2 separate regions of the Homo sapiens genome follow, and region 1 is linked to region 2. The links come from fine-mapping of genetic effects on gene expression. A gene starts in region 2. The other region holds a variant in brackets. All regions are shown on one strand. Distances are from middle to middle. Region 1 overlaps GRB2 (growth factor receptor bound protein 2). Region 2 holds the start of GRB2 (growth factor receptor bound protein 2).

Evidence for each region. PIP is the estimated chance that this variant, and not a neighbour inherited with it, causes the effect.
Region 1: its variant is fine-mapped to the expression of GRB2 in whole blood (TOPMed, PIP above 0.99).

What each region holds. Positions count from the first base shown.
Region 1 is chr17:75,302,254-75,319,353 of GRCh38, reverse strand. GRB2 (growth factor receptor bound protein 2) reads left to right here. Exons shown (of 6, transcript NM_002086.5): 6 at 1-1,278. Among named protein-coding and RNA genes, the nearest start is that of SLC25A19, 21 kb to the right of the region's middle. RefSeq lists enhancers at 2,610-2,859, 3,210-3,359. The variant A/T (reference allele first, on the strand shown) is at 8,585.
Region 2 is chr17:75,399,169-75,409,344 of GRCh38, reverse strand. GRB2 (growth factor receptor bound protein 2) reads left to right here and starts at 3,667. Exons shown (of 6, transcript NM_002086.5): 1 at 3,667-3,856. It overlaps MIR3678 (microRNA 3678), which reads right to left and starts at 3,276; the gene lies at 3,183-3,276. It also overlaps the pseudogene RNU6-938P. RefSeq lists a silencer at 3,430-3,609.

The sequences.
Region 1 (17,100 bases), 93 kb after region 2:
AAGGGTTGCTTCTGAGTGGTGTTTTTTTTTTTTTTTTAATTTGTTTTGTTTTAAAATAAGTTAAAGGCAGTCCAGAGCTTTTCAGCCAATTTGTCTCCTACTCTGTGTAAATATTTTTCCCTCCGGGCAGGGGAGCCAGGGTAGAGCAAAGGAGACAAAGCAGGAGTGGAAGGTGAGGCGTTCTCCTGCTTGTACTAAGCCAGGAGGCTTTAAGCTCCAGCTTTAAGGGTTGTGAGCCCCTTGGGGGTTCAGGGAACTGCTTGCCCAGGGTGCAGTGTGAGTGTGATGGGCCACCGGGGCAAGAGGGAAGGTGACCGCCCAGCTCTCCCACATCCCACTGGATCTGGCTTACAGGGGGGTCGGAAGCCTGTCCTCACCGTCTCGGGGGTTGTGGCCCCCGCCCCCTCCCTATATGCACCCCTGGAACCAGCAAGTCCCAGACAAGGAGAGCGGAGGAGGAAGTCATGGGAACGCAGCCTCCAGTTGTAGCAGGTTTCACTATTCCTATGCTGGGGTACACAGTGAGAGTACTCACTTTTCACTTGTCTTGCTCTTAGATTGGGCCATGGCTTTCATCCTGTGTCCCCTGACCTGTCCAGGTGAGTGTGAGGGCAGCACTGGGAAGCTGGAGTGCTGCTTGTGCCTCCCTTCCCAGTGGGCTGTGTTGACTGCTGCTCCCCACCCCTACCGATGGTCCCAGGAAGCAGGGAGAGTTGGGGAAGGCAAGATTGGAAAGACAGGAAGACCAAGGCCTCGGCAGAACTCTCTGTCTTCTCTCCACTTCTGGTCCCCTGTGGTGATGTGCCTGTAATCTTTTTCTCCACCCAAACCCCTTCCCACGACAAAAACAAGACTGCCTCCCTCTCTTCCGGGAGCTGGTGACAGCCTTGGGCCTTTCAGTCCCAAAGCGGCCGATGGGAGTCTCCCTCCGACTCCAGATATGAACAGGGCCCAGGCCTGGAGCGTTTGCTGTGCCAGGAGGCGGCAGCTCTTCTGGGCAGAGCCTGTCCCCGCCTTCCCTCACTCTTCCTCATCCTGCTTCTCTTTTCCTCGCAGATGATAAAAGGAATCTGGCATTCTACACCTGGACCATTTGATTGTTTTATTTTGGAATTGGTGTATATCATGAAGCCTTGCTGAACTAAGTTTTGTGTGTATATATTTAAAAAAAAAATCAGTGTTTAAATAAAGACCTATGTACTTAATCCTTTAACTCTGCGGATAGCATTTGGTAGGTAGTGATTAACTGTGAATAATAAATACACAATGAATTCTTCACTTGGTATCTTTTTTTCCCCTTGCCTGCCTTAAAAATTTAAAAACCGCATCGGGGAGTCAGGAATCTTGGGTCCTTATTTCAGACGTGATCACCCAGCTTACATCCCCCTAGGGGAGCATGTGGGGCTCACAGGCCTTCCTGGGAGCGATGCCTGCAGTTGGCTGTCAGGAACTCCTGGGGAGCCTGTTAACAATACAGAATCGCAAACCCCGCCCCACATCCTCGGACATTGCCTTTGAGGACACAGACACGCCCGCTGTTTCTGATGTAGAGAAACCACTGACCACGCTTTGGGAACTCTGGTCTAGACCAAGGGCTTTGGGAAGATAAAGAGCTTGGCTTATTTGGTTCTCCTGTTTTCTGTGTTAAACAAGAAGAAGGACAGAAACACCTGTGAAGAAACGGTTTTAATATGCTGAGTAACTGAAATATACTTGTTTGCTCAATAGGCTGCTTTTAGGGTGAGACTAGGCATATTTACACACACGTTGGCTACAGAGGCAAAGAAGACTGAACAAAAAAGAAATGAGGTCTGGCCATGGTAGCTCATGCCTGTAATCCCAGCACTTTGAGAGGCCAAGGTGGGGGATCACTTGAGCCCAGGAGTTTTGAGGCCAGTCTGGGCAGCATAGGGAGACTCCCTGCCTCTCTACAAAAAGCAAATTAGCCAGATGCAGTGGCGCACGCCTGTAGTGAGGATTACTTGGGAGGCTGAGGTGGATCACTTGAGCCCAGGAGGTCAAGACTACAGTGAGCTGTGGTTGCACCACTGCACTCCAGCCTGGGCAACAGGGTGAGACCTTGTCTCGAAAAAGTAATAAAAAGGGGACAGGCAGGGTGGCTCACACCTGTAATCCCAGCACTTTGGGAGACTGAAGCGGGTGAATCACAAGGTCAGGAGTTCAAGACCAGCCTGGCCAACATGGTGAAACCCCATCTCTACTAAAAATACAAAAATTAGCCAGCTGTGGTGGCAGGTGTCTGTAGTCCCAGCTACTCGGGAGGCTGAGGCAGGAGAATCGCTTGAACCCGGGAGGTGGAGGTTACAGTGAGCCGAGATTGCACCACTGCACTCCAGCCTGGGTGACAGAGCTAGGTTCCCTCTCAAAAAAATAAAATAAAATAAAAAATAAAGGTAATAAGGGCCAGGCTCAGTGGCTTACGCCTGTAATCCTAACACTTTGAGAGGCTGAGGCGGGTGGATTGCTTGAGCTCAAGAATGCCACACCAGCCTGGGCAACATAGTGAAACCCATCTCTACCAAAAATTAGCTGAGTGTGGTGATGCACACCTGTGGTCCCAGCTACTCAGGAGGCTGAAGTGGAGGTTGCAGTGAGCTGTCATGCCACTATACTCCAGCCTGAGAGACAGACCTCTCTCAAAAAAAAAAAAAAAATACCCAAGAAATCTCGACTTGAATTCTTCTTGGTGTAGCCACACTGAGCAGGGGAGGCTTGTGGGTTGTTTTGTTTTGTGACAGGGTCTTTATCTGCCACCCAGGCTGGAGTGCTACGGTGCAATCATAGCTCACTGCAGACTCAATCCCCTGGGCTCAAGTGATCACCTCAGCCTCCCAAGTAGCTGGGACTGTAGGCATACACTACTGCACCCAAGTAGCTGGGACTACAGGCATACGCTACTGCACCCAAGTAGCTGGGACTACAGGCATACGCTACTGCACCTGGCTAATTTCATTTTTTTTTGTACAGTGGGGTCTGTGTTTCCCAGGCTGGTCTCAGACTCCTGGGCTCAAGAGATCCCCCCACCCTTGGCCTTTCAAAGTGCTGGAAATCCAGGCGTGAGCTGTGCCTGGCCTGGGACGTTTTTGACCTTCCCCTGCAGCAGTCATGTGTGGGAAGGATCTTGACCCAGCAAGAGTCAAGACTGCTAGTCCTGTGGTCCACTTGGGCTGGCCTCCTTGAAGCTGAGCAGAAGTTTACAAAATGGAGCTATGTAATTGAAAAGGCCGGGCGTGGTGACTCATTTAGCCTCATTTGAGGCTTTTTGCTCAATTTGTCCCCTCCCTCGCGTTTGACTGACTGTTTCAGAATTAATGGGAAAATCACTCCTTTTCTGTGATCAGCAGTTTGGTCACAGATTTCTTAGTGATGGTATCTCCCTCCTCAGGGATCCGGGATTCCTGGGAAGACATCTGGGCGGGGTGCCTTGGGAAGCCTCCCAGCATCTTACAGGAGCCCTGTGGCCGGCGTGCAGCCGGGAGTCGCTCAGTGTGTCAGGGGAAAAGCTGGAGGTAGGCGCATGGCCTCGCTCTTCAGGGCACGCCCCCCCCACCCCTCCCTGACACGCTTCCCTCCACCCAGTGAGCTGGGAGCCCCTGACAGGCTCACCTTCAGACTTGAGTGTGGAGGAGATGGTGACCCACAGCGCGGGGCTGCTTAGGTGGCCTCTGAGCCAAAGGCCATGATGGCGCAGGCTGCCTGCCTTCCCTGGGCACTAGTTCCACCTGACTGTTCATGGGGTGGGTGACCTTCAGCCCAAAACGTTCGCTTTATGGAAGTTCCTGGATAACTGGAAAAAATGACAGTGGACCTGTTTTATGCGTCTTGGAAATACTTTTTTTTTCTTTTTTTTTTTTTTGAGACAGAGTCTCCGTCTGTCCCCTAGGCTGGAATGCAGTGGCACGATCTTGGCTCACTGCAACCTCCACCTCCCGGGTTCAAGTGATTCTCCTGCCTCACCCTCCTAAGTAGCTGGGATAACCAGCTCCTGCCACCACGCCCAGCTAATTTTTGTACCTGGGGTCAGGAGTTCAAGACCAGCCTGGCCAACGTGGTGAAACCCTGTCTCTACTAAAAATACAAAAATTAGGTGGGCGTGGTGGCGGGCACCTGTAATCACAGCTACTCGGCAGGCTGAGTCAGGAGAATCGCTTGAACCCGGGAGGCAGAGGTTGCAGTGAGCCGAGATCGCGCCATCACACTCCAGCCTGGGCGACAGAGTGAGACTCCGTCTCAAAAAAAAAAGAGTACAATTCTGTGTGCCAACAGCACTGATAGATCAATATTACATGTTAGTGATATTGATTAAGCCACTTACTGCTTAGTGCATTCCAAACACTACTTTTAAAACTAACACTAAAAGCCATACTATACCCCGTCCAAAAAAGAAATCACTAAGACGTATTTTAAGTCTCAACTCTGGCCCACCCAAGAGCAACACTGGTCTTAGGTCTCCAAGGACAGCCTTCTTTTTTTCTTTTTTCTTTTTTTTTTTTCAGTTGGAGTCTGGCTCTGTTGCTGGAGTACAGTGGCGCCATCTCAGCTCATTGCAACCTCCGCTTCCTGGGTGCAAGCGATTCTGCTGCCTCAGCTTCCCGAATAGCTCGGACTACAGGCGCCCGCCACCACACCCAGCTAATTTTTGTATTTTTAGTAGAGATGGGGTTTCACCATGTTGGCCACGATGGTCTTGATCTCCTGACCTCGTGATCTGCCCACCTTGGCCTCTAAAGTGCTGGGATTACAGGCGTGAGCCACCAGGCCCTGCCCCAGCCTTTTTTTTTTTTAACATTCCTGGATTCGGGTTGAGAAAGCACAGCTATTGCAGCCATTCTCTGAGTGTGAGTCGTGGCGTCAGCAGTGTTGGCCTCCAAAATAGCAGCTGCCAGGTCCTGAGGGCTCGCCTCGTGCTGCAGGCCTGTGCAAGGGCCCGAGCCTGGGGTGAAAGGGTGGATGTTTGCCTCCTGCTGTAACCCCACCCCTCATCCTGCGCTGTGCTAGGGAAGCAAGGGGCGAGGGTGTACCCTTTTTCATTTACTCTGTTACACATGTGTTGCCCACACCTGTAGGGATTGATGGTGAACGTCATTCCTGGGGCGTGTGGAATTGGAGGCAATTATCTCCCCTCTAACTGGAGGCTGAGGAGGGCCCCCGTGTCTTCTCACACCATCAACCACCGCTTTCCATTCCTGCACGGTGGCATTGCTGCCCTGAGTCACCCTGAAACTGGAAACTGCCCCACTGGAGCCTTCTGTCCTTGACACAGACGCACTCTTCAGTCCTGATCCTTGTATTATGCAAGCCCTTGCATGAGAGAGACTCAAAGAGGAAATGTAGACAGCACAGGCTCAAAGGGAGGCTTGGAGGCAGATGGGACTTGCCCTGGGGATTGGGTGAAATGAGTTTGGACAGTTACTAATAGGACAGTAGACACCCAGAGCAGGTGGTCTAGTAGAGGCGTGGCGGTGTTAGCGAGCACCTGCCTGGACATGGCTTGAGGGAGCCTGAGTAGCCTCCTGCAACGAGGAAGAAAGAGCCCAGGTGGGGTTTGTGGGGGACTCGAATGCAGGCTGAGCGATGCCCATTCTGCCTGTTGACACAGGAGGCTTCTGTAGCTTTTTTTTTTTTTTTTTTTTTTAAACAGAGTCTCACTCACCCAGGCTGGAGTGCCGTGGCACGATCTCAGCTCACTGCAACCTCTGCCTCTTGGGCTCAAGCAATTCTCCTTCCTCAGCCTCTCCAGTAGCTGGGATTACAGGTGTGCACCACCATGCCCAGCTAATTTTTGTATTTTTAGTAGAGATGGGGTTTTGCCATGTTGGCCAGGCTGATCTCAAACTCCCGACCTCAGGTGATCCACCCGCCCCAGCCTCCCAAAGTGCTGGGATTACAGGTGTGAGCCACCATGCCTGGCTGCTTCTGTAGCTCTTATAGATCAGCGGTACGATGAAAGATAAGTTTTAGGAACATCTGACTTGCAGTGGTGCGGAGACCAGAATCCGGATAGCCTGGAAGAGGCTAGGGTCGTGTTAGCTGAGTGAAGTCAGGCTCTGCAGCAGAGTGTGCGCAGTGCTCACCTGGCTCTCTCCCGACCAGTTGTCTGGACCATGTGCCCAACCTCCCTGCAGTTCCAAGCAGCCATGTGCTCCAGTCCTGACGTGTGTGGTGTGTTTGGGGCCTTGTGGCCTCCCCACTTTGTTGCTTCTCTTGCCTGTGGGTGGATGCAGGAGAGCCAGCAGAAGACCCAGAGCACCTGCTAGATTTGGAACATGTCTGGGGCGGGGCACAGTGGCTCATGCCTGTAATCCCAGCACTTTGGGAGGATCACTTTAGCCCAAGAGATTGAGAACAGTCTGGCAATATAGTGAGACCCTGTCTCTACAAAAAATTAGACAGACTCAGTGGTGTGCTCCTGTAGTCCCAGCTACTCAAAGAGGCTGAGGCAGGAGGATTGCCTGAGTCTGGAAGGTCGAGGCTACAGTGAGCCATGATTCTGCCACTGCACTCCAGCCTGGGCAGCAGAGACCGAGACCTCGTCTCAAAAAAATGAAACAAATATCAGCTGTGTTGCATCACTGACGGGGGGAGGAGGGTTGTCTGTTACAGCAGCCACACTGCCTATCCAGGGACAATGCTGGGGATAGGACCTGGGGAGAAACTTGAGAGGCCCAGCAAAAAATAGGAGGTTTTGGCCGGGCACGGTGGCTCACGCCTGTAATCCCAGCACTTTGGGAGGCCGAGGCGGACAGATCACCTGAGGTTGGGAGTTTGAAACTAGCCTGACCAACATGGAGAAACCCCATCTCTACTAAAAATACAAAATTAGCTGGGCATGGTGGTGCATGCCTGTAATCCCAGCTACTCAGGAGGCTGAGGCAGGAGAATCACTTGAACTCAGGAGGTGGAGGTTGCGGTGAGCCAAGATCATGCCATTGCACTCCAGCCTGGGCAACAAGAGTGAAGCTCTGTCTCAAAAAAAAAAAAAAGAAAAGAAAAAAATATGAGGTTTTGGAAAAGGAAGTAGAATTGCTTGTCATCTAAAATAGAAGGAAGCAGCAGTGACAGCTTTCGTAAGACCAGCATCTGCGCCATCTCCTTACAGATGGGGCTGGCTCTTCGGCACGAACCCCACTCTCCAGACCTAGCTGCATAGGACAAGCCAATTTCTCTCTGAATGTCTTTTTTTTTTTTTTTTTTTTTTTTTTTTTGAGACGAAGTCTTGCTTTGTCTCAGGCTGGAGTGCAGTGGCATGATCATAGCTCACTGCTTGCTTGAAGTCCTGTGCTCAAGTGATCCTCCCGCCTCAACCTCCCGAGTAGCTGGACGTGCGCACCACCATGCCCAGCTAATTAAAAAAAATTTCACAGAGATGGGGTCTCACTATATTGCCCAGACTAGTCTTGAACTCCTGCACTCAAGGGATCCTCCCGCCTCAGCCTCCCAAAGTGTTGGGATTAAAGGCATAAGCCACCACACTTGGCCTTTTTTTTTTTTTTTTTTTTTTTTCTGAGACAGAGTCTTACTCTGGAGTGCAGTGGCACGATCTCTGCTCACTCCAACCTCCGCCTCCTGGGTTCAAGTGATTCTCCTGCCTCAGCCTCTTGAGTAGATGGGACTATAGGCACCCGCCACCTTGCCTAATTTTTTTTTTTTTTTTTTTGAGATGGAGTCTCACTCTGTCGCCCAAGCTGGAGTGCAGTGGCACAATCTCGGCTCACTGTAACCTCTGCCTGCCGGGTTCAAGGAATTCTTCAGCCTCAGCCTCCCGAGTAGCTGGGACAACAGGCATGCCACCATGCCCAGCTAATTTTTTTGTAGTTTTAGTACAGATGGGGTTTCACCATGCTGGCCAGGCTGGTCTTGAACTCTTGACCTCGTGATCCACCTGCCTTGGCCTCTCAAAGGGCTGGGATTACAAGAGTGAGCCACCGTGCCTGGCCCGTGGCCTAATTTTTGTATTTTTAGTAGAGACGGGGTTTCACCAATTTGGCCAGGCTGGTCTCGAACTCCTGACCTCAAGTGATCTGCCTGCCTCGGCCTCCCAAAATGCTGGGATTACAGGCATGAGCTACTGTGCTCAGCCTTTTTTTTTTTTTTTTTTTTTTTTTTGAGACGGAGTTTTGCTCTTGTTGCCCAGGCTGGAGTGCAATGGTGCAATCTCGGCTCACCACAACCTCCAGCTCCTGGGTTCAAGCGATTCTTCTGCCTCAGCCTCCCGAGTAACTGGGATTATAGGCATGAGCCATCACACTTGGCTAATTTTGTATTTTTAGTAGAGACGGGGGTTTCTCCATGTTGATCAGGCTGGTCTCGAACTCCCAGCCTCAGGTGATCCACTCTCCTCGGCCTCCTAAAGTGCTGGGATTACAGGCATGAGCCACCGCACCCAGCCAATTTTTTTTTTTTTTTTTAAGAGACAAGAGTCTTGCTCCATGGCCCAGCCTGGAGTGCAGTGGTGTGATCATAGCTCACTGCAGCCTCAAACTCCTGGGCTCAAGCCATCCTCCCACCTCAATCTCCCAAGGAACTGGGACTACAGGTGGTACCACCACACCTAGCGAATTTT[A/T]AAATTTTTTGAAGATTTTAGGCCGAGCATGGTGACTCATGCCTGTAATCCCAGCACTTTTGGAGGCCGAGGGGGCCAGATCACCTGAGGTCAGGAGTTCACAACCAGCCTGGCCAACCTGGTGAAACCCAGTCTCTACTAAAAATACAAAAATTAGCCGGGCATGGTGGCCCACGCCTGTAATTCCAGCTGCACAGGAGGCTAAAGCAGGAGAATCACTTGAACCTGGGAGGCAGAGGTTGCAGCAAGCCGAGATGGCGTCACTGCACTCCAGCCTGGGCGACAGAGCGAGACTCTGTCTCAAAAAAAAAAAAAAAAAAAAGTTTTATGGAGATATGATCAATGTAACATTTTTAAGTGACCCATCTAAAGTATATTATTCAATGTTTTTTAGTATTCACAGTTATGCAATCATCACCACAATCCATTTTATTTTATGTTTTTTAGTAGAGACAGGGTCTCACTATGTTGCTCAGGCTGGTCTCAAACTCCTGTCCTCAAGCGACCCTCCCACCTTGGCCTCCCAAAGTGCTGGGATTACAGACATGATCCACTGTGCCAGCCACCACAATCCATTTTAGAACACTGTCATACCCCAAAAGAAACCATATACCCCAGCCTGGGCAACATGGCAAAACCTTGCCCCTACAAGAAATAACAAAAATTAGCCAGCTGTGTAATCCCAGCACTTTGGGAGGCCGAGGTGGGTGGATCACCAGAGGTCAGGAGTTTGAGACTAGCCGGGCCAATATGGTGAAACCTTGTCTCTACTAAAAATACAAAAATTAGCCAGGCGTGGTTGCGTGTGCCTGTAGTCCCAGCTACTCAGGAGGCTGAGGCAGGAGAATCACTTGAACCCGGGAGGCGGAGGTTGCAGTGAGCCAAGATCACACCATTGCACTCCAGCCTGGGCAACAGAGTGAGACTCCGTCTAAAAAAAATAAAGAAACTGCTGATGTTGTCCCAGTGAAGGGAGTGGCAGAGGGCCAAGGGCGTTGAGCTGTATTTAGGAGGAGCTGGGAAGACCTGGGGTGGAGGGAAAGGCAGGTCCAGATGGCTGCAGGGCAGTGGGGGGATCTGTGGCTTTTGTTTGTTGAGATGGGGAACTAGGGGAAGAGGGGCAGGGTGGGGTGAAGCAGAGAGAAAGGCTGGAGGGTTGGATTTGAGGTGCCTGAGGACAATCATCTAGAAAGCAGCAGGGTGTGTTCACCTGGAGCTCAGGAGACAGATCTGACAGGAGATCGAGATCCAGGTGTTGTCAGTGTGGAGGTGGCCCTGAAACCATGGCCACGGGTGAGGCCTCACATACTCCAGTCCCCATAAGGAAGCACAGCCCTGAGGGCTGGGCGAGGGGAAGGCAGGAAGCACACAGGAGAGAGGCCAGAGCGGCAGGAGGTGAGCCAAGAGTCCACAGCACCAGGGACGCCACAGGGCTCCAGGGACAGGGCTGCAGGGAAATGCTCCCTGGTACCATCCTGGTCCCGGCCCTTCGTCCCCCTCTCCCCACTGCCACAAAACCTCCTCCTGTCTCTCCACCCTGCCTCTTTCCCCAGCCTGTCCAAAGAGGGCAAAGTCCAGGCTCCTGCCCCTCAGGAGCAGTGTGATGTAGGACAAAGAGCATGAGATCGCAGGCCTGAGGCCAGGGCCTTTATTCCTCGCTGTGTGACCAGGGCCCCCTTTTTCTCCTTTTTTCTTCCTTTTTTTTTTTTTTTTTTTTTTTGAAACAGAGCAAGACTCTATCGCCCAAGCTGGAGTGCAGTGATGCAATCCCAGCTCACTGCAACCTCCGCCTCCCGGGTTCAAGCGATTCTCCCACCTCAGCTTCCCGAGTTAGGATTACAGGCACGTTCCACCATGTCTGGCTGGTTGTTTGTATTTTTAATAGAAACGGGGTTTCGCTGTGTTGCCCAGGCTGATCTTGAACTCTTGGCCTCAAGTGATCCACCCACCTCAGCCTCCCAAATTGCTGGGATTACTGGCGTGAGCCATGGCGCCTGGCCACGACCAGGGCCCTTAACCTCTCACCCCCATTCCTTCATCTGTTTAAAAATCAAACCAAGGAAAATGTCCCTAGGTTGCTCTGAGGATCCAACGTGATTATGTACACGGGTGTTTTGCAACTGCAACGATTAAGTACATCGTGACAGGTGCTGATTAGGATCTTGGCATTCAAGATCTCATACAGTCTGCACCTGGTCCAATTCTCCAAGCCTTTGGCCAACCAAATCCCTTCTGAGTCTTTGCCTTTGGTCAGCATCTACCTTTCTCCCAGATCACAGGCAAAACCTCAGCTCACTGCAACCTCCACCTCCTGGGCTCAACCAATCCTACCACGTCAGCCTCCCAAGTAGCTGGGACCACAGACACACACCACCATGTCCGGCTAAATTTTTGTATTTTTAGTAGTGATAGGGTTTCACCATGTTGCCCAGGCTGGTCTCCAACTCCTGAGCTCAATCGATCCCCCTGCACTGGCCCTCCAAAGTGCTGGGATTACAGGCGTGAGCCGCTGTGCCTGGCCTGTTTAAATCTTTGATCCATTTAAAGGTATCCTGATATCGGTGTGAGAGATGGATTCAGCTCTCCTTTTTTCCAGATGGCTATACGCTTGTCCAGATAGTATTTACTCACAGGCCACCTCTGCCCCAGCCGCTGTCCTCTCCTCTCTAACTAACCTTCAGCTCCTCCTCTCTGCTCTCTGCTTATCCCCAGCCTGTCATAAGAACTAGATCTACAGACCCCACATCTCCTGAGAACCCCTTCCTGATCAGCTCCCAGGGGGCTCTTGCTCCCCTGCAGTCTCGAAATCCCAACTGCCTGCCCCCTTCCTCCATCCTCCCTTCCTCCATCCTCCCTTCCTCCATCCTCCTGCGGGCACAGTGGCTCAATTCTGTAATCCCAGCACTTTGGGAGGCCTAGGTGGGTGGATCACTTGAGGTCAGTTTAAGACCAGCCTATTCAACATGGTAAAACCCCGTCTCTACTAAAAACACAAAAATTGGCCGGGCGCAGTGGTTCACACCTGTAATCCCAGCACTTTGGGAGGCCGAGGCAGGCGGATCACTTGAGGTCAGGAGTTCGAGACCAGCCTGGCCAACATGGTGAAACCACGTCTCTACTAAAAATACAAAAATTAGCCAGGCATGGTGGCAGGTGCCTGTAATCCCAGCTACTTGGGAGGCTGAGGCAGGAGAATTGCTTGAAGCTGGGAGGCGGAGGTTGCAGTGAGCCAAGATTGCACCATTGCACTCCAGTCTGGGTGACAGAGAGAGACTGCCTGTCAAAAAAAGCCACAAAAATTAGCCGGGTGTGGTGGAACATGCAGTAATAATCCCAGCTATTTGGGAGGCTGAGGCAAGAATCACTTGAACCCAGAAGGCAGAGGTTGCGGTGAGCTGAGTTTGCGCCACTGCACTCCAGCCTGGGCGACAGAGCAAGACTCCATCTCAAAAAAAAAAAAAAAAAAAAATTTAGGCTGAGTGTGGGTTATAAGATTACACAGGATAAGGTGTATTAAGTAACTAGCACAAGATGGGTTAATCTATGCTAGTGCCCACATCTGGTAAATCATTTTGAGTTCAGCCAGCTTCTGGTCAGCCCTGTGCCTATCCATGATTCTTATTCTGTTCTTACCGAGTGCAAAATAATTCATAGATTTTTGTTTTTTGGTTTTACAGTTTTTTTTTTTTTTGAGACAGGCTGTCACTCTGTCATCCAGGCTGCAGTGCAGTGACACAACTACAGCTCTTGTAACCTCAACTTCCCAGGCTCAAGCCATCCTCCCACCTCAGCCTCCCAAGTAGCTGACTCCAGGAACACACCACCACACCCAGCTAATTTTTATATTTTTTGTAGAGATGAGGTCTCACTATGTTACCCAGGCTGGTCTCAAACTCCTAGGCTCCAAGTGATCTCTCACCTCAGCCTCCCAAAGTGTTGGGATTACAACCACACCCATCTGTATTTTCTTTTCTTTCTTTTTTTTTTTAAGACGGATCTCGCTCTGTTGCTCAGGCTGGAGGGGCAATGGCACGATCTCAGCTCACTGCAACCTCCACCTCCTGGGTTCAAGTGATTCTCCTGCCTCAGCCTCCCGAGTAGCTGGGACTACAGACATGCACCACCACGCCTGGCTGATTTTTGTATTTTTTAGTAGAGACAGGGTTTCATCATGTTGCCCAGGCTGGTCTTGAACTCCTGACCTCCAGTGATCCACCCACCTAGGCCTCCCAAGTGCTAGGATTATAGGTGTGAGCCACTGCGCCTGGCCTGTTTAAATCTTTGATCCGTTTAAAGGTATCCTGATATCAGTGTGAGAGATGGATTCAGCTCTCCTTTTTTCCAGATGACTACACGCTTGTCCAGATAGTATTTACTCACAGGTCCATCGGCAGCCCCCTGCGAGCAGGTGCGTTCTGTATAATGAGTGTCCATGTCCTCTGTATACTGGGGTCCTGTTTCTGGGCCTCTGTTACTCTGCAGTCTGCCCGTGGGCTAGTGCGGCACACTAAGTTTCTGATGTCAGATCGGCCATTCTTTTCCCATTGCTCTTCTCAGTATGTCCTGGCTCTTCTTGTTTATCTTTTATTTTCTTTCTTTTTTTTTTGGAGACGGAATCTCGCTTTGTTGCCCAGGCTAGGGTGCAATGGCGTGATCTCGGCTCACTGCAACCTCTGACTTCCTAGTTCAAGAAATTCTCCTGCCTCAGCCTCCCGAGTAGCTGGGATTACAGGCACCCGCTACCACACCTGGCTAATTTTTGTATTTTTGTAGAGACGGGGTTCACCAGCCGGCATGGTGGCTCACACCTGTAATCTCAACATTTTGGGAGGCCAAGGCGGGCAGATCACTTGAGGTCAGGAGTTCGAGCCTGGCCAACATGGTGAAACTCTGTCTCTACTAAAAATCCAAAAATTAGCCAGGTGTGATGGCACACGCCTATAGTCCCAGCTACTCAGGAGGCTGAGGCAGGAGAATCGCTTGAACCCAGGAAGCAGAGATTGCAGTGAGCTGAGATTACGCCATGGCACTCCAGCCTGGGCAACAAAGCACGCCTCTGTCTCAAAAAAAAAAAAAAAAACGGCCAGGCGCGGTGGCTTATGCCTGTAATCCCAGCACTTTGGGAGGCTGAGGCGGGCGGATCACCAAGTCAGGAGATCGAGACCATCCTGGCTAACACAGTGAAACCCCATCTCTACTAAAAATACAAAAAATTAGCTGGGCGTGGTAGTGGGCGCCTATTGTCCTAGCTACTTGGGAGGCTGAGGCAGGAGAATGGCGTGAACCCAGGAGGCAGAGGCTGAAGTGAGCCGAGATCGCACCACTGCACTCCAGCCTGAGCAACAGAGCGAGACGCCGTCTCAAAAAAAAAAAAAAAGAGAGAGAGGAGATGAAGTTTCACCATGTTGGCCAAGCTGGTCTTGAACTCCTGACGACGTCATGATCCGCCTGCCTCAGCCTCCCAAAGTACTGGGATTACAGGCATGAGCCACCACGCCCGGCCTTGTTTATATTTTCAATGTAAACTTTAGCATCAGCTTGTTTCCTTCCAGAAAAAAGGCTCTTGGTGTTTTTATTTGGATCATGTTAAATTTGTAAACTAAGAAGAACTGGCGTTTTGTGATGTTGAGTCTCCCTATCCGAGGACTTGCCATGTCTTTCCAGTTTCATGTCCTTTGGGAACATTTTCCTTATGGAGATTTTGCATGTTTCTTGTGACATTTGTTCCCAGATATTTTATCATCTTTGTTGATATTTTAAAGCAGACCTTATCTTCTTCCATCTTTTTTTTTTTTTTTGAGATAAGGTCTTGCTCTGTCACCCAGGCTGGAGTGCAGTGGTGTGATCATGGCTCACTGAAACCTCCACCTCCTGGGCTCAAGTGATCCTTCCACCTCAGCCTTCCATGTAGCTAGGACTACAGACATGTGCCACTGCACCCAGCTAATTTATTTATTTTTGTTTTTAAATTTATATCTATCTATTTATTTATTTATTGAGTCATGGTCTCATTTTGTTACCCAGGCTAGAGTACAGTGGTGTGAACACAGCTCATCCCAGCCTCGACCCTCTGGGTTCAAGCAATCCTCCTACCTCAGCCTCCTGAGTAGCTGGGACTATAGGCAAGTACCACCATGCCCACCTAATTTTTGTACTTTTTGTAGAGATGGGGTTTCGCCATGTTGCCCAGGCTGGTCTTGAATTCCTGAGCTCAAGTGATCTGCCCACCTCAGCCTCCCAAAGTGCTGGGATTACAGGCAGGAGCCACTATGCCCGGCCTCCCATTTTCTAGCTAGCTGTCATTTGTCTATGGGAAGGTATTGATTTCTCTGTACAAATGTTGATCTCACTTCCCTACTGAATTACTTGTCTGTGTGCAGTGGTTTGGCATTTGATCTCATACAGACAAAATTGTGTCTTTTTTTTTTCTTTTTTTAGAGACAGGGTCTTGCTATGTTGGCCAGGTTCATCTTGAACTCTTGGCCTCAAGCAATTCTCCTGCCTCAGCCTCCCAAAGTGCTAGGACTACAGGTGAAAGCCCCCACACCTGGCCTCAAGAAATCATGTCTAAATGGCACATTTAAACCGATGGCCAGGTGAGCTCCAAGGCTCTTCCACTGCCTGCTCTGCTTGTCCTGAGACCACTAGTGAAGACGAAAGTTCATTAAAGGAGCAAATAGGCCAGGCGCAGTGGCTCACACCAGTAATCCCAGCACTTTGGGAGGCTGAGGCAGGTGTATCACTTAAGATCTGGAGTTCAAGACCAGCCTGGCCAACATGTAGAAACTTCATCCCCACTAGAAATACAAAAAATTAGCTGGGTGTGGTGGCAGGCACCTGTAGTCCCAGCTACTCAGGAGGCTGAGACTGGAGAATTGCTTGAACCCAGGAGGCGGAGGTTGCAGTGAGCCGAGATCGCACCACTGCACTCCAGCCTGGGTGACACCGTGAGACTCCGTCTCAAAAAAACAAATAAAAACTATTTTGTTGTGAGTAAGGAATATAAGTTGTTTTTCAAATGCCTTCTGACCATAAGGCTGCTCTTCCAAACACTTTTGCAGCCTGAGAAAAGTAATCCATGGGAAGAAGACCTCTCCCCCTCAGCTGTAGAACTCAAAGTGCAGATGGGTGAGGAGCATGATCTCAAAACACAGGGCAGCCAGGCCAGCACCGTGGGAGGCCGAGGCGGGGAGATGACTTGAGGTCATGAGTTTGAGACTAGCCTGGCCAACATGGTGAAACCCCATCTCTACTAAAAATACAAAAATTAGCCAGGCGTGGTGGCAGGCGCCTGTAATCCCAGCTACTTGGGAGGCTGAGGTGGGAGTATCGCTTGAGCCTGGGAGGCAGAGGTTGCAGTGAGCCAACATCATGCCACTGCACTCCAGCCTGGGCGACAGAGACCGTGTCAAAAAAAAAAAAAAAAAAAAAAAAAAAGCATATAGCACCTCTCCCTTCGCTCTCTTTCTCCTGCTCTGGCAGTGTAAGATGTCCCTTCCCCATCACCTTCCACCATGATTGTAAGTTTCCTGAGGCCTCCCCAGCCATGTTTCCTGTACATCCTGCAGAACCATGAGCCAATTAAACCTCTTTCCTTTATAAACTACCAAGTCTCAGGTATTTTATAGCAGGGAGAACAAACTGATAACACCATTGCATTGTGGGGTTAGGGCCTCAAAGTATGAATTTGGCAGTGGGGGAGGTGCACAAAAAATCCCACAGAACTGGGTTCTTGGTCCTAGCTCCAGATCCTGCTGGTTATGTGACCTTGGGCGAGGTGGCTGATGCCTCTGAGCTTGTTTCCTCAGCAGTATGATGGAATGTGATGTTGGCCTCCTAGGGTTTTTGGGAGACATGGCTAATGTATATAATATCCAGCCTGGACAGGCACGGTGGCTCACACCTGTAATCCCAGGACTTTAGGAGGCTGAGGCAGGTTGATCACTTGAGGTCAGGAGTTTGAGACCAGCCTGACCAACATGGTGAAACCCCATCTCTACTAAAAGTACAAAAAATTAGCCAGGCCTGGTGGCCCATGCTTGTAATCCCAGCTACTCAGGAGGCTGAGGCAGCAGAATCGCTTGAATCCAGGAGGCGGAGGTTGCAGTGACCCGAATCGCATCATTGCACTCCAGCCTGGGCGACAAGAGCGAAACTCCATCTGGAAAAATAAAATAAAATAAAATATCCAGCCTAATGCCAGAGGAATCATATACTTCCTCAATAGATGTTTCTCTTCATCTATCCATCTGGGCAGACATGTTTTCTGCCACCTTCCCCCCTCTTCTTCCATAGTAGGAAAATGCCCAATTATTATTATTATTGACAAGGTCTCACTCTTTCATCCAGGCTGGAGTGCAGTGGCACAATCTTGGCTCACTGCAACCTCCGCCTCCCGGGTTCAAGCAATTCTCTTGCCTCAGCCTCCCAGGTAGCTGGGATTACAGGCACCCACCGCCACGCCCAGCCAATTTTTGTATTTTTAGTAGAGACGGGGTTTCACCGTATTGGCCAAG
Region 2 (10,176 bases):
ATTCTGAGCACTTTTGAATGAAAGGAAATTGGAAGGACTTACAAGCTGCCTCAGAACCAAGGACTTTTTAAAGTCTTGTTTCACCACCCCACATGCATGCAGGGGCTGTCTGAAAGTTCCCTTAGCTGACTGAGAAACCAAAAGAAATTCAATTGTGTACTTGCTTTGGCAGCACATATACTAAAATTGGAATGATACAGAGATTAGCATAGCCCCTGAGCAAGAAGACATGCAAATCTGTGAAGGGATCCATTAAAAAAGAAAGAAAGAAAAAGAGCAGGTGTGGTGGCTCACGCCTGTGATCCCAGCACTTTGGGAGGCCAAGGCGGGCGGATCACCTGAGGTCGGGAGTTCGAGACCAGCCTGACCAACAGGGAAAAGCCCCATCTCTGCTAAACATACAAAATTAGCCGGGCGTGGTGGTGCATGCCTGTAATGCCAGCTACTCTGGAGGCTGAGGCAGGAGCATCACTTGAACCTGGGAGGTGGAGGTTTCGGTGAGCTGAGATCACGCCATTGCACTCCAGCCTGGACAACAAGAGTGAAACTACATCTCAAAAAAAAAAAAAAGAAAAGAAAAGAAAAAAAATAGATGCGACTGTCTTAAAATTTCCTCCCTAGGACTCTCGTCAAATAACCAGGAAATATTAACTACCAGAGAAGAGAAAAGACTAAAAGTTGTCACCACATCCAAACAGACTTTTCATCTATTCTCCTGAGGACAGCTGAGATTATTTAGGAGACTTTATCTGCATAATAAGACAACCTTTATTTACAGTGAAGTCCTGCACCTCACCTTCCTGAAATTTGTCACAACCTCCAGCTCCCAGAGCTCAGAGGAACTTTGTCCCAGGCATTGTTTGGGCTCATTCCTTTTCCCTAAAAATAGTTGACTACCTTTCAGTATTGCTGACCTCCGCTCATCTCCCTCTCCTCTGCAAAGATGGTGCTCTTTAAGCTTCAGCCACCTGGCTCTTCTCTGAGTCTCATATTCTGTATGGTAACCATGCACACTGCATGTCAGTAAATTTGTATGTGCTTTCTCCTGTTAATCTATTGCCAGTTTATTTCAGCAGACTCAAACTGTCAGAGTGGAAGGGAAAAATTCCCTTCACCCTTACAATCATCTCCTCACCTGCCCTTCCCTGTTCTCTGTGCCTGCCCCCTCCAGTCAGCTATGCCTCTTGACTGGCAAATTTCTGTGTTCTCCCTGTTATCCAGGCCCACTCAAAACAAAAAACTGCAATTCTTCCCTCATGTCTTCCTCTCTGCTTAGCAGCTAAGTCCCTCCCTTCCATTTCTATTTTTTTCTGACTGCTATTTTAGAACAAAGTGGCATAGTGCGGGAAAAAAATGAGGATTTTAGAACAAGACAGGCCTTAGTCCAAATCTTAGGTCTACTATATTTTGGCTTCCTTGGGTAAATTACTAACCTCTCTAAGGCTTAGTTTCCAAGTCTGTAAAATGGGGATATTACCCACCCTGTGGAGGCGCTATGACTTAAGTATGCATCAAGTGGTAAATAGAGGGTCCTTTTCTTATTTTCACCTCATATCAGACACCTCCTGCTCAGAAACCTTCAGAGGTTGCCCATCACTTGACTATGACACCTAAGCCATGCATTTTGCATTTTGGCCCCTCTCTCTCATCACTCTTCCCCCCAATTACTGGGGCTTGGACTAATCAAAAACATTGGTTGATGGCCAGGAGTGTTGGCTCACATCTGTAATCCCAGCACTTTGAGAGGCTGAGGCAGGTGGATCACCTGAGGTCAGGAGTTCGAGACCAGCCTGGCCAACATGGCGAAACCCTGTCTCTATTAAAAATACAAAAATTAGCTGGGTGTGGTGGCAGGCTGCTGTAATCTCAGCTACTTGAGAGGCTGAGGTGAGAGAATGCTTGAACCCAGGAGGCGGAAGTTGCAGTGAGCCAAAATCATGCCACTGCACTCCACTCCAGCCTGGGCAACAGTGCAAGTCTCAAAAAAAAAAAAAAAACCAAAAAAACAGGCATGGTGGCTCACGCCTGTAATCCCAGCACTTTGGGAGGCCAAGGTGGGCGGATCACCTGAGGTCAGGAGTTTGAGACCAGCCTGACCAACATGGAGAAACCCCATCTCTACTAGAAATACAAAATTAGCTGGGTGTGGTGGCACATGCCTGTAATCCCAGCTACTCGGGAGGCTGAGGCAGGAGAATCCCTTGAACCCGGGAGGCGGAGCTTGCGGTGAGCCAAGATCGCGCACCATTGCACTCCAGCCTGGGCAACAAGAGCAAAACTCCGTCTCAAAAAAAAAAAAAAAAAAAAAAAACAAAAGGCTGATTCCATTACTCTTTCCTCTTTCCTCCCTGCTTTCACTTTGCCGTTCAAACCAAATCCTTCTTGATTAGCTCAGCACCAAGTACTGGCTCCCTCCTCAGCCATCCCTATGTGTAGTTCAGTGGCACTTGGGGCCAACTGCTTGTCTTACAGATTAGGCAACTCTAGATTACAAAGCACTGAAAGCAGGGGCTTCATCTGGTTGGTCTTTGACCCTGCAGAGCCCCTTGCACACAGGTGATGCTCAATAAATACTTGGTGAAAGCACAATTCATTTTCTGTGTTTCAATGGGCTTCTTTTCTCTATAGAATCAGATGCTTGGTTATTCTCACCTCAGCGCTATTTTGTTGGCTTCCAGAAGGCACAGTAACGCTAGGTGTGTTGTGTTCTATCCTTTAATTGGAAGAGCTTTGGGAACTGAAAAATAAGAATTATTTCTCCAAGCCTCATCTTCTGCCACTCCCCCGTACTCACCGGCCTCATACAGGAATTGAACTACTTAGCACTGCACAGAACACGACTTTCTCTCTCACGCCTCCGTTCCTCTGTACTTAGCCTCTGTACTTACGTGCCATTCCCTTTCCCTGAAATGCCCTTACTCTGGCTTCTCTGCCTGGCAAATTCCTACTCATCCTCCAAGACTCAGATCAGACATCGCCGCATCACATCTGTGAAGGCTCTTCTGCAATGGGCAGTGTAGCAGTACCCCCTCCATTTTTTTAGCTTCCTCAGCAAACTCCAAATAATTATAACAGTACTTATGGCATTATTTGTTTATTTTTCTTCTACTTCCTAGACCGTGAATTCCTTAAGGGCCAAGATTTCTGTTCTATCCCCAGCACAGTGTTCGGCCTATATTGGAGAATCCGGTCCGTACAAACTCTGCAGTGATTCAATCAATGAGCAAACAAACTCACCAATCATTCAACACAGCAGAGTTTGTACGGACCGGATTCTCAAATATTTTAAGACCTGGTCCTCTATTTGGAGTGCTTCATTCTGGAAGATCTCTTCCTCCCCCAAGCCCCTACCCATCCAACTGCCTAGGTTTGGTAGAAGAGGAAAATAAAGTGATTAGACGGGGGAAGAGTCCTTCAGGGCTAAGCTGTCATTTACCCGCTCTGGCACCGAGAGGGTTACGGCGACCCGGGGGCGGAGCCGTGCGGAGGCCACCTGCTGCGGGGAGGTCTGGCGCATGCGCCCTGACACCTAGCTGGTTCCCTACCCGCAGGGGCCCGGCTGAGGAGGAGCGCTTGCGCTCTGGGCCTTTTCCGCCGGGGGAAGTCTCGCGGGGGCGGGGCGGGGCCTCGTGGAGAAGTTCTCGCGGGACACCGACGGGGAGCGGAAGCCAGGAGGTATTGCTGCTTCGGCGACCGGGCGGCGGCAGCGGCGGCGGCGGCTGTGGCAGAGTCTGTGCCTGTGGCGGTGACGGCGGCGGGAGCAAGCGCTGCCCTCGCAGAGCAGCCTTGGGGTCGCCGGCCGCTCGCAGCGTTGTGGAGGGGCGGGCCGGACGCTGAGCGGAGCAGCTGCGCCACGGTGAGTACGGGAGGCTGCGCTCGGCGCCTCTCTCGTGCCTTTTCCTCTTGGCTCTACAGCGGGAGTGGGCCCCGGGGGAACCGGGACCGGCCCCGGGGTTCGCGTCGGGGCGGCGAGGCTTGGGACGTGGAGCGCAATCCCCGGGGCTCCGGACTCTACGTTTCCCCTTTTGGGGCGCTTCCTTCCTGGGGACCGTCCTCCTCCGGCTCTTGGCTCTGGGCAGTCCGGGGGAAGAGGTCGGGGTTCTCTGGCGAGGTCCCCTGCCTTCATCGGGAGGGTTTGCACGGAAGGGGCCCGGGAAGCCCAGGCGGGCCGAACGCCGACCGAGTCAGTCTACCCGAGCCTGGCGGCGGGGGACTGGTGTGGGCTGCAGCTGTGGTGATTGATGTGCCTTCGACCTGCACGGCAACCACGTCACCATCTCCTGGCGTCTTTGGGCTTAATTTTGTGCGGGAATCCACTTTGGGGTGGAACGTTTGCTGCTGGAGCCGGGGGAGATACCTTTATTCTGACACTTAAAAAAAAAAACTATTTGAAAAATATTTGTCAAGAAAAATTCAGCAGTAGCAGGTTGGACTGCACCGAGGAAGGATTGCGGCGAGAGCGGGCGCTGGTAATTTTCATTTGCAGCGCGCCCTCTCTATGATTGTAAGCCACACATGAGTTATGGCTTGTTTAGAAAGTTTTTCAAGGCTGGCTTCAAACGCTGTGAAAGTGCAGTTTGCAGGGGACTGAAGTGCACTTGAGGTCTGTCTCTTTTTGATGCTGTTGACTTTCCGAAATGTCAGACACATGAGAGAAATTAGCATTAGTCTATTTTGGCTTTCTTACTCCTCTTTCTCCAGTTATTTCCTTCCTTCTCTATCTGCTTCTGTCCTTTCCACTAGGGACACGAAATGCTTGTGTAATGCAAGTCATTTGCCCCTTCCTCCCCCCACCCCCCCCTTTTTTTCTAATGTACTTCCCCTTCCTCCTTGTAGTCCCCACTCTGGCGTAATTTTTCGAGGTTTCTTCCCTTTCGTGCTGTTCGTTTTCTCTCATTTCAAGATTCCGTCTTTTTCCTCGGGAAGAGACTCTCTTTCCTTGCTTTCGTTCCTTTACTTTTGCGCGTCCCCTGCGTTCCCTGCAGTCAGCCAGAAGGGTTGCTAGAGAGCCGTGGGAGGCTGAAGTCCCCTCTCTGAGAACGGGGAGGCTCAAAAGATTGAATTCATCCCTAAGAAATCAGTCCTGCCACTAGGTCGCAAGTGTGGTTTGCTTGTATTATTTTTGTCTTTTACTCTTTTTCTTTTAAGATTATGCTTCTGTGCCTGCTTATGTTTTCTTCTAGTATGTCTTTATAATAGGAAGATTGGGTCAGCTCAGTGACTTTTTTTTTTTAGGCAGAGTTTTGCTCTTTTTGCCCAGGCTGGAGTGCAATGGTGCTATATGGGCTCACTGCAACTCTGCCTCCTGGGTTCAAGCGATTCTCCTGCCTCAGCCTCCCGAGTAGCTGGGATCACAGGCGCCCACCACCATGTCCAGCGAATTTTGTATTTTTAGTAGAGATGGGGTTTCACTGTGTTGCCCAGGTTGGTCTTGAACTCTTGACCTCAGGTAATCCACCCGCCTTGGCCTCCCAAAGTGTTGGGATTACAGGCGTGAGCCACCGCGCCCGGCCAGAGTTAATTCTTATAATCAGCTTTCTTCTACTAAACACAAGCATTTATTTATTTATTTTATTTTTTTGAGACGGAGTCTCGCTCTGTCGCCCAGGCTGGAGTGCAGTGGTGCGATCTCGGCTCACTGCAGCTTCCACCTCCTGGGTTTAAGCGATTCTCCTGCCTCGCACTCCCGAGTAGCTGGGATTACAGGTGCTCACCACCACACCTGGCTAATTTTTGTATTTTTGTAAAGACAGAGTTTCACCATGTTGGCCAGGCTGGTCTCGAATTCCTGACCTCAAGTGATCTGCCCATCTCAGCCTTGGGATTACAGACATGAGCCACTGCGCCCGGCCTGAACTCAAACGTTTAAATGTTTGAGGCACTTTACTTCGTCAGCAAGTTATTCAGATTTGAGAGGCTTGCTGGGTTTTAAATACTACTGGTTGATGGTACTTAGAGATTCTTCTCAGTAATTGCTGTTATCATGTTGCATGTTGTCCATCAGAGTTCTAATTGTTACACATACAACAGAAGAGGAATGGATTTTGGAGAAATGAAGTAATACAGAATAGAGAGTCACCATGCCCTCCGGAGAGAAATTAATACTTGCTTAATTCAGAGGAACTCTCCACCATTACTGAATGGCTTTTGAGAGTCTGTATATATATATATATTTATATATATATATATTTTTTTTGGTCAAAGTTGCCTTTTTCCTAGTTGTGCCAAGTGAATACGCATTATTTTCTTTTTCCTTTTTTTTTTTTTTTGAGACAGATTCTCGCTCTTGTTGCCCAGGCTAGAGTGCAGTGGCACGATCTCAGGTCACCACAACTTCCACCTCCTGGGTTCGGGCAATTCTTCTGCCTCAGCCTCGCTAGTAGCTGGGATCACAGGCATGCACCACCACGCCTGGCTAATTGTGTATTTTTAGTAGAGACAGGGTTTCTCCATGTTGGTCAGGCTGGTCTGGAACTCCCGACTTCAGGTGATCCACTCACCTCAGCCTCCCAAAGTGCTGGGATTACAGGCGTGAGCCACCGCGCCCGGCCAATATGCATTATTTTCATTTCATGCAAGGACATTGTAGTGCATTATCTGGAATGCAAATTTTAAAATCTGGTTAAGGCATCCTTATGGTATAGCAGTTATTTAAAATTTAGTATCCATAAAAATCACTGGGAGATCTTTTTAAAATTAGGTTCTGGTAGAACTCCAGGATGTACCCCACAGTGAATCAGTCTCTGAATGGGTGGATTTTGATACAGATGGTCTAAGGATCAAAACTGTTGTTACCAAATGCAGCCATAAATAATAAGACTGCTGTGTGGCTTTAAGTAATTCAACTTAAAATTACATTTTTCTGTGTATACACAAAGTCAGTATTTAGAATAGCCTAATGGAATGAGTGACTATAAGCATGATTCATTTTTACATGTGTAAATTTTTTAGCATTCTTAATACTGTGATGTGGAGTGATTTAACTTGAAATTTATACTTAATAGGGTCATTAATTTGCCTACCAGAGAATTCTTCTGAGTCTGTAGACTCAGACGAAAGATTTTTCAGCTTTACAGTGGTGTGAAAGCAATAGCGCTCAGTAAAAACTATACTTCCAGTACCCATATAACTGTTTTGTTTTTCACTCTCAGTACCATAGTCAGTAAATTACAGGAGATATTCATCACTTTGTTATAAAATGGGCTTTGTGTTAGATGATTTTGCTTAACTGTAGGCTAATGTGTTTGGAGCACATTTAAGGTAAGGTAGGCTAGGCTAAGCTGTGGTGTTTGGTAGGTTAGGTGTATTAAAATGCATTTCCATGTAACAATATTTTCAACTGATGATGGTTTCATCAGGATATCTGCCTATGCAGATGGAAGCTCCACATTTACTCTTAGAACATGTAGGCTAGTATTTGAAAAGAGACTGAAAATACTAGTTAAGGTCTCTGGCTTATACTACATTATAATAATAAAATCATCACAGCCCACACTATAGTGGATAATTAGTTAGCTCAGTCTTTTGGAGAGAGCCAGAGACTTCTGCCAAGCATTTTACAACCATTATCTCTTTTAATTATCAAAATGACTTTATAAGGTAGTTGGCTGTTATTATTCCCATTTTCCAGTTAAGGGATACTAGGGATTACAGAGTATAAGTTACTTCTCCAGTGTCCCCTCATTAGTAAGTGGAAAGTGACATTTGAATCCAAGTCTAACTCCAGAGCGTCAGTAAGCTTTTTGGTTTGTGTTGTAACTACAAAAGTAACACATGCCTATTGTAAAAATAATGAAAATACAATTGAGGTGTATCATGCAGAAAGTAAAAGTGTTCTGTGATCTCGCTAGCAGAGATAACCATTGTTAGCCTTTTTTTTTTTTTTTTTTTTTTGAGACGGAGTCTCGCTCTGTCGCCCAGGCCGGACTGCGGACTGCAGTGGCGCAATCTCGGCTCACTGCAAGCTCCGCTTCCCGGGTTCACGCCATTCTCCTGCCTCAGCCTCCCGAGTAGCTGGGACTACAGGCGCCCGCCACCGCGCCCGGCTAATTTTTTGTATTTTTAGTAGAGACGGGGTTTCACCTTGTTAGCCAGGATGGTCTCGATCTCCTGACCTCGTGATCCACCCGCCTCGGCCTCCCAAAGTGCTGGGATTACAGGCGTGAGCCACTGCGCCCGGCCTAGCCTTTTTTTTTAAGCACATACTGATGTATTATTTTGCCTTACAGAAATAGGATAAACTATAATTTTTCTGCAGCTTTAAAAATTTGAGGAGAATGGCTTGAACCCGGGAGGTGGAGGTTGCTTTGAGCAGAGATCATACCACTGCACTCTAGCCTGGGCGACAGAGCAAGACTCCGTCTCAAAAAAAAAAAAAAATTGATATATCCTGGTATTTATGTAGATACTCCATACACAAGCTCATGGATATTGATCAAGGGTGTGGGTGTATATGTGTATGTTGCACATTGTATTTTGTCTCATTGTTTCAGTGAGATAAATCTGGGAAGTGGAATTGCTTGGTCAAGAGTATGTATTGGTCAGGCACAGTAGCTCACGCCTGTCACCCTGGAACTTTGGGAGGCCGAGGTGGGCGGATCACTTGAGGTTGGAGACCAGCCTGGCCAACATGGTGAAACCTCGTCTTTATTTGAAAATACAAACATTAAAAACACACACAAACACACAAAAAAAGAAAATTCAAAAATTAGGTGGTGGTGACACGCCTGGAATCCCAGCTACTTGGGAGGCTGAGGCAAGGAGAATCGCTTGAACGCAGGAGGTGGAGGTTACAGTGAGATGAGATCACACCACTGCATTCCAGCCTGGGCAACAGAGCGAGACTCTGTCTCAGAAAGAAAAAAGGAGCATGAGGCTGGGTATGGTGGTATGCATGTAATCCCAGCACTTTGGGAGGCCAAGGCTGGTGGATTGCCTGAAGTCAGGAGTTTGAGACCAGCCTGGCCAACCTAGTGAAAGCCCATCTCTACTAACAGTACAAAAATTAGCCAGGCATGGTGGTGCACGCCTATAGTCCCAGTTACTTGGGAGGCTGAGGCAGGGGAATTGCTGGAACTCAGGAGGCGGAGATTGCAGTGAGCTGAGATCGTGCCATTGCACTTCAGCCTGGGTGACAGAGCAAGACTCCATCTCAAAAAAAGGAGTATGTATTTACAAAAATTAGCCAGGTGTGGTGGCACACACCTGTAGTCCCAGCTACTTGGGAAGCTGAGGCGGGAGGATGGCCTGAGCCTGGGAGGTCAAGGCTGCAGTGAGCCAAGATGGCACCCACTGCACTCCAGACTGGGTGACAGAGCAAGACCCTGTCTCAAAAAAAAAAAGAGTATGTATTAATATTTCAAAATTGTCGGTCAGGGCCGGGCACGGTGGCTCATGCCTGTAATCCCAGCACTTTGGGAGGCTGAGGCAGGCGGATCACGAGGTCAGGAGATCGAGACCATCCTGGCTAACATGGTGAAACCATGTCTCTACTAAAAATACAAAAAAATAAGCCGGGTGTGGTGGTGGGCACCTATAGTCCCAGCCACTCGGGAGGCTGAGGCAGGAGAATGGCATGAACCTGGGAGACGGAGCTTGCAGCGAGCCAAGATTGCGTCACTACACCAGCCTGGGCGACAGAGCGAGACTCTGTCTCAAAAAAATAAATAAATAATTGTTGGTCGGGCGCGGTGGCTCACGGCCTGTAATCCCAGCACTTTGGGAGGCCAAGGCGGGTGGATCACGAGGTCAGGAGTTCAAGACCAGCCTGACCAACATGGTGAAACCCTGCCTCTACTAAAAATACAAAAGTTAGTCAGTCGTGGTGGTGGGGGCATGTAATCCCAGCTACTTGGGAGGCTGAGGCAGGAGAATGGCTTGAATCCAGGAGACAGAGGTTGTGGTGAGCCAAGATCGTGCCACTGCATTCCAGCCTGGGTGACAAAGCGAGACTCCATCTCAAAAAAAAAAAAAAAAAAGAAAAGATTGTCAAGGCCAGGTGTGGTGGCTCACCCCTGTAATCCCAGCACTTGGAAAGGCTGAGATGGGGAGGATCACGTGAGTCCAGGAGTTTGAGATCAGCTTGGGCAACATGGTGAGTCCTGGTCACCACACACACACACACACAAAAATTAGCCAGGCATGGTGGTGTGCACCTGTAGTCCCAGCTACTTGGGA